2 linked regions of the Homo sapiens genome follow. The protein of the gene in region 2 interacts with the protein of the main gene of each other region in a pairwise test. Each region holds a gene or a part of one and is shown on either strand. Other genes may lie near its edges.

Region 1 (3,651 bases), about 55 Mb from region 2:
ACCAGCTGGCCTTACAAGAGAAGCTAATTTCACTCTACTCAATGTGCTACATGCATTTATCTAAATTGCCTAGCTCAGAGCCACAGTTGCGGCAAAAGAATAAATCTCCTACTTGACAGGAATTCTCTTCATTCTTTTACTGGCTCCTAGGGCCAGCTTACAGGGGCAAAGGCTGAGGAGGAAAGTATTCCACCTTTCCAAAACCAGAACGAGGGTGACAGGCAGATGGCTGGGCAGGTGCTGGCACATCACGGAACTCAAATCATGGCCAACTGATTAGAAAAGGTCAGCATAATTAGGCTAATTATGGGCTCAGAGGGAAACCATGGACTTTCCTCATTGATTTATGACCGTTTGGGAAAAATCCTCAACTGGGATTTTTAGTGTGATAACGGGACAGAAAAATCAGGATACATGATATATATATAGGGAAAAGCTAAAACCCCGGCCTTGGTGGATTTCCTATCCCTACCCGCTTCCCTGGCCCGCCCTCTCCCAACACACATTCAGCCGGTTACTGAGGACAGTAACAGGGTCTGGGGACAGACTGGGGGAGAAAGTTACTTGATGACACTGTCATCAGCTCCAAAGTTCACATTCTGTGAACCTCCTACCACATCTGGAATGTGTGAAGAGGGCTGTGATACATACCAGTTTCTGAGAAAAAAAGAATAAATATTTTTAATTTTGTAGCCCCTAAAGGCACAAGATCACGAGAATGTTCAGACGTTTCTAACAAGAATGAACGGTATTACAGCCCAAGCCACTTACTCTCCAGGTAAGGTGTGAACTCTGGGGAGTTCTCATACAGAGGCTCCCCAGCAGAACCGGTGCTCTCCACATTCCCTGCCGGGTAGGAGAAGACCCGTGCCAAGTACGTCTGCTTCACATCCTTCACAATCTCGTCGGTGAGGTCACACTCTGTGTCTGTTGTGTAAAAGCATTTGCTTTTCCAATCTCCTGACTTAGTGCTAAAGAAAGAAAAGAAGGAAGAAACATAAATGGAATGTTACAATTTGCACCCAACAAGATAGACTGCTTCCTGGCTGTGGTGTTCTGTGCTAACATCAGGAGCCCTACAATCAATCCTAATGATGCAGTCACTGTGCTGAGCACTTTGCTTTTTTTTAAACATTGTTTTGTAGAGATGGGGTCCTGCTATGTTGCCCAGGCTGATCCTTCTGCTTCGGCCTCCCAAAGTGCTGAATGTACAGGTGTGAGCCATCATACCTAGCAACACCGAGCACTTGGGATGCATGTTTGAGTCCTCATAGCAACCCAGGGGATGGCTCTGTAATTTGCCTTGTTTTTACAAATAAGGCTACTGAGACAAAGTGAGATTGGGTGACTAGCTCAAAATCACACAGCTGGACTTTGAACCAGACAGCTATTTGACTCTTGGATCTGTACTCAACCATTTTGTTAAATATCTTTCTTTTAGAATGTAGACGCTCTCTGTCAGGGTAACAGGAGAGAAAGAGCAGTTTTCCATCAAGATGAGGCAACTGAGACAAAGTGAGGTTGTTTACTATAGTCTACTTATTATAGTTGTTTGTTATATAATGTTCTATATTCTATGTAGAATAGAGTCTATATAGTGAGTCTACATAATAACATGTTATACATATATTCTCTCATGACCACTATTAATAATATTATTAATCATTCATTGACTCCACTATATGCCAGGTATTCTGCTGGACCCTTTACTCATGTTACTTCATTTGATATAATCCTTCCAAGAAGGTGTTGGATCTTTCTTATCCATGAGGACACTGAAGCTCACAGGCACTAAGCAACTTGCAGAAGGTCACATATCTAACGAGTGGCAGAGCTGGGTCTGTTTGCCCCATTATACTACATGCCTCCCTTCCTTTGCAAGATGTGAATCCATCCCAACAAAGATTACAGAATAAGAGTACAGGTAGTATCTGTCTAATAAAGTCTGAGACTAAAAAGCTAAAGACAGATCTTTCTTTTGTGAGACGTCACTGAAGGGGAAATGATTTAAAGGACTTCTACTGACAATGAAATTCTTCTAAATGACCAAAATAATAAATAGGTGAAGCGTCACTGCAACTTGATTCACACACTTCTGTCCCATGGAAAGTGACAGTTATGCTGCTCTTCCCTTTGGCATTACTGACTGCCAGAGCCAGACCCATCGTTCAAGGCCAGGTCCCAACTCCACCTGCTCCAGGAATCTCCAGATCTCCCTGCTGAGCATTTACATCTCCCTCCCCTGTCCCCCAGCATGAGTTTCTCCACGATGCTGTTAATATGAACACAGTCTGCCTGGTACGAGGGCTGCATGCCCTTGTGTGCCCCCATTAAGCAGCAGGGCTATAGGGTCTCGCTGACTATTAGATGGTTTGCATTTACAGGTTGAATTAATACATAATCTCAGGGAAAACGAGGCACCACATGGATTCCATTGTCTAAATTCACACATAAAAGCCACAAATATATTTTCTTTCAAAATCTGAACTAAGTAACCAGGCCAAAAGGATTTGGGTAAACACATTCTTTATCCTAAAGTGCACAAACTAAGATTGATACTGAAATATTTTGGTTTCTATTTATTTAATTTTATGTGATAAAAGTAGAGAGGGTATTTTGTTCCCGAATGACCAAAATGTGTTTTATTTTATCATTTCCATTTCAAAAAGTGAATGAGACTATGCTGTTTCCTTTTTATCAGTACAGCAAATAGTTGTTCAGATAACAGGAGAAAGTCTCCTAGGGCTTTCTATGTAACATAGAGATACAGTATTTGGTTCCTCCCAGCTCACAGCAGGGACCACATACTCTATAGCAAAATTTAGCACAAGGATTTATACAGTACCCTGGTAAGTAGTAAAACTGTATAAACAGGTAATGAAGGGACAATTCTGTAGAAAATCCCTCTGAATGCCATTAATAGCATTAACACTTTAAAAGCCTCCAAGGTTCCTCCAGGCATTGCAAAACCCTCTGATTTGGAATTTTGAGTTAACTAAAAAATTCAGTCACTAATTTGGTTGCAGGTTGTTTTCCAGAAGCTTTGTAAATTCAGCTTTAGAATTCAGAACATTTCCATGGAATGAATATCACCGGTGACGGTTTGTGCTAAGGCTTAAGCCAATAACATTTCCCAACCACCACTGAAAACTGTTAGCAAAGGTGAAAAATGCAGTTGGAGTTCCAAGTAGGGGCTTCTGCACAGCAGTAGTGTCCTGCGGCTGGAGCCAGGCTGCAGTAGTGAGAGCAGTCGGGAGGGAAGAGGGGCAGCTGCTTAAGATGCTAACTGTAGGGAGGGAAAACAGGCAGAGAGGAAGGCCAACTGAGGAGATGCAGTGGGCAAGACTTTCCTTCTTCCTCCCGCTTTGGAGCCTCCCATCAGACTGTGGCAGAGCCACCTGAGGGATGGTGGTGTGTGGATACTGGGTAGACTTTGGTTCCAGACCTGACATGGGCACTCACCATCAGTGTAGTCATGAATAAATCCCTCACTTCTCAGAGCAACAGTTTCCTCAACTGTAAAATGACTGCTCTGGTCCTTTTTAACCAGGAATCTCATTTATTCCTGGGGTGGGCAGGAGAAGAGTGCACACCTCAGGCCGAGGCTGATGGAAAAGCTCCCAGGCCCTCCAGTACAGCAGCAAGAGATTG
Region 2 (3,651 bases):
TACCAAGATACGGAATATACACTAGTTTCACTCTTTGCAAACCTTGCTTTTTCCTGTCCCTGAAGTCAGCACCCAACCGGAGTAAGTATGTAGCAGAAAGTTGCTTGTTGAATTGAAAAAGGTAATAAAAAGGAAGAGCTGAAGCAGCAAAAACTGCTGAGAGTGGCAGCTCAGGACTTAGTCTTAAAAAGTGTTATCTGGTAAATTTCATGGTCTTTTCTCCCTTTCTTCTCAGGTTTTTTCCCCTTGAAAATTAATATTTTCTCTATTCATTTAATCATTTTATAAGAAACCAAGTAATATAGAGTATATTTTAACCTCCTGAAATAATAAAATGACTGTAGCTCCTTTAAAGGGTACTAAAAAAATAAGTATGACATAAATTTCATTTTTCTTAAAACTTTCACTCACGTGGCTCCTAAACTTCCAAATGCTTTTCATTTCGTCCTTCTGCAGCTTTGTGTGGAGCTGAGCTGGAAGATGAAATAGCTCCTCCCAGACTAACCAGCCTTCCAGCACCTTCTGCTTAGCTGAGACCCTGACGGCTGGAAGTTTGCCTCACAACCCTATGAGCTTCCAGAGGGCACAAGATGTGTCTTGTAAATGACCATATCCTTAGCACCAAACAGGTGCTCAGTAATCATTAGCTGAAGAAAGGACTGAATGAACGCTCCAAAGGCTGGGGCTGGAAGGGCCAGGTAGAGTAGAAGGGATGGGGAAGAGACCCCCTTTATGGGATCTGGAGCCTCAGGAATGGACAGACCCAATTTGGCCCTGTGACAGGCCTGTGGGACCACATCCTATAAAGCATAATCCCAGGATCAAGAGAATTCCTAACCAGAACCCCAGGCCCCCAACTCCTTAACCTCACCTCCTGGGGCAAAAGCCAACTCCCCTATGCCCAATGGACATTGGTTCTGGCCAAGTGGGAGGTGGGGCTAGAAGACAGGGTACTGGAGGACCTGTCTCTTTTGCAGGGTGAGGTGGTCCCTCAAAGATCTTGATGGAGGGGAGGAAGGGCTTGGGCAGAGGACTGGGTGGGCCAGAGAGGGGGGCTGGAGTGTCCCTCCTCCTGGGAGGCCAGCCAGAGAGGTCATCAGGTTGGGAGGTGGCCATGCCCCTTCTGGCCAGGGACCCTGCCCCTCACCAGCTTCTACTTCTGCATGTCACACTGCAGCAGCAACACAATGGATGGGTCACTCTTGGCTGCCTCCTTGAACTCCTCCAATGTAATCTGGTCGTCCTTATCCTGGTCCATCTTCTTGAAGATCTTGTCCACACGCTGCTGGGGCGTGAGCCCGTCCTGGTTCATGCGCATCATGATCACGGTGCCCACCATCTTGTAGATTGCCTGGTGAGGGAAGGAGGAGGGAGGTGTGAACACCCACAAGGGGCCCCGAGAAGCAGCGGGTGAAGGAAAGGGATCTGGCAGGGAGAACACTGGGGGTTGGTGAGGATACTGGAAGGTATATGTGGTCATTAAGACTGGATATTTAATGAGCAACTCTTTTTTTTTTTGAAACAGAGTTTCGATCTTGTTGCCCAGGATGGAGTGCAATGGCGCGATCTCGGCTTACTGCAACCTCTGCCTCCTGGGTTCAAGTGATTTTCCTGCTTCAGCCTCCTGAGTAGCTGGGATTACAGGCATGCACCAACACGTCCCGCTAATTTTTGTATTTTTAGTAGAGACGGGGTTTCACCATGTTGACCGGGTTGGTCTCGAACTCATTACCTCAGGTAATCCACCGGCCTCACCCTCCCAAAGTGCTAGGATTACAGGCGTGAGCCACCACGCCCAGCCCTCAACTAATTTTTTATTTAGACTAAATAATATTTATGTGGATGAAACATGCCAGAAGCCCAACTCCGTGGAGACCTTACTGATGGGGCTCCTGGCTCCCCGTATGACCACCTTCCTATCACTCTCTCCCTCTCATGGCTCTCCCACCACCGGGCCTCCTGGCCCCTCCTTGAACTCTGCAGAGAAAGGCCGACCTGCCTTAATTGCCCCTCAGCATGGAACGCTTTCCCCCAGGCATCTTGCAGTAAAGGCCTCACCCCATTCAGGCTGCTGCTAACTTTCCATCTTATATAAAGTAACTTCTCCATCACGCGCTCTCCCTGCACTTTGCTTAGTGTATCTTCCTCATAGCACCTACGGCCTGACCCCGCATGTCTTCATTCATTTATTTTTTAAAAAAATTTCTCACTAGAAGGAATGCCCCATGAAAGCAAGAACTGGCAGGCGCTCAATCCCTGCCTGTTGACAGAATGAGTTGAAAACATCAGCTATGAGGTCAGACTCCCTGGATTGGAATCAGGAACCCGGCCGTTTCCTCCTCTGCCAAATGGGGTTTGGGACAGTAACCAACCCCTCCGCCCCGTCGAGTGTCGGGTAAAGCATTTAGCCCGGGCCTGTAGCGGGGTGGTAGGAGGCGGGATCGCAGGCTGGGGAGCAGCAGGGAGGCCCCGAAGCCCGAGAGCAGCGCGGAGGCAGGGGCGGGGATGGCGAAGCGCTGGCCTCGGGAACAGCAGCGCCCGCGCGGCCCCGCACCTCGATGATCTCCAGCATCTCCAGGCGCGTGATGCGCCCGTCGCCGTCCAGGTCGTACATCTCAAAGGCCCAGTTGAGCTTCTGCTCGAAGCTGCCGCGGGAGGTGACCGACAGGGCGCAGATGAACTCCCGGAAGTCGATGGTGCCGTCGCCGTTCTTGTCGAAGGTGCGGAAAGCGTGCTGCGCGAACTTGGAGGCGTCGCCGTAGGGGAAGAACTGAGGGGGGTGCGGTGGGTTGGGGCGCAGCGACAGCCCCGCCCACCCCGCCCCCATCTCAGGGAACCTCCCCTGCACCCCGGGTGCCTCGCCTCCTCCCACCCCGGGTGCCTTGCCCCCGCCACCCCGGGTGCCTCACCTCCCCCGCACCCCGGGTGCCTCGCCTCCCCTCCCACCCCGGGTGCCTCGCCTCTTCTCATCCCAGGGTGCCCTGCCTCCCTCACCCCCGGTTCCTCGCCTCCCCCAACCCGGGTACTTGGCTCCCTCACACCAGGTGCCGGCCGCCCACCTTGATGTAGAGCTGCTGAAACTCCTCCAGGTTGAGGATGCCGCTGGGGCAGTCCTTCAGGAAGCCCTTGTACCACTGCTTCAGCTCCTGCTCGCTGAACTCAGTGTTCTGAACAAGGTCCTCCAGCACCTCGGGGGCCAGCTTGCTGTTGGTCTTCCCCATGGCGGGGCCTGTGGGACAGAGGGATTCCTCCGACTGGGTCCAGGGAAAGGCCCTGCCTCAGCCACAGCTGCCCCCTCCCCTGCCACACACAGGGCGGGGTTGCAGGTTCCTTCCCCTCATGACACTCCCCCATAATGGGGCCTCCTCTCCCCTCACAACACCTGCATTCAGGTAGGTTTCTTCTCCTAGCCCCGGGGGTCTCCCGCCTTCCAGGTCTCAGCTCTCCTCCTCACTGACCGTGCAGCACGCCACAGTCTTCATCCTCTCCCCTCCTGCTCACACCTTTCATGGCTCCCCTGCCCACAGACTAAGGCCTTGACTCCTCTCCTTGCCATTTAGGGCTTTCTGAAGTCAGCCCCCACCCTCCTTGGCAGGCTTCTGTCCTGAGAAGGGACCCAAGGTAGGTTCCTTGTGTGTCCCCTTGGCACTG

What was found. Proteins that work in one complex are often made in the same cells at the same time.
Region 1: the proteins of HPCAL4 (region 2) and F3 interact in binary tests that used the Homo sapiens proteins (3 or more experiments, as listed by UniProt).

What each region holds. Positions count from the first base shown.
Region 1 is NC_000001.11:94,535,194-94,538,844, forward strand, and holds part of F3 (tissue factor isoform 1 precursor), read right to left. Parts: intron 972-3,651; coding exon 772-971; intron 1-771. UniProt on the Homo sapiens protein: Initiates blood coagulation by forming a complex with circulating factor VII or VIIa. The [TF:VIIa] complex activates factors IX or X by specific limited proteolysis.
Region 2 is NC_000001.11:39,681,383-39,685,033, forward strand, and holds part of HPCAL4 (hippocalcin-like protein 4), read right to left. Parts: intron 3,230-3,651; 5' UTR 3,222-3,229; coding exon 3,060-3,221; intron 2,771-3,059; coding exon 2,555-2,770; intron 1,352-2,554; coding exon 1,154-1,351; 3' UTR 1-1,153. UniProt on the Homo sapiens protein: May be involved in the calcium-dependent regulation of rhodopsin phosphorylation.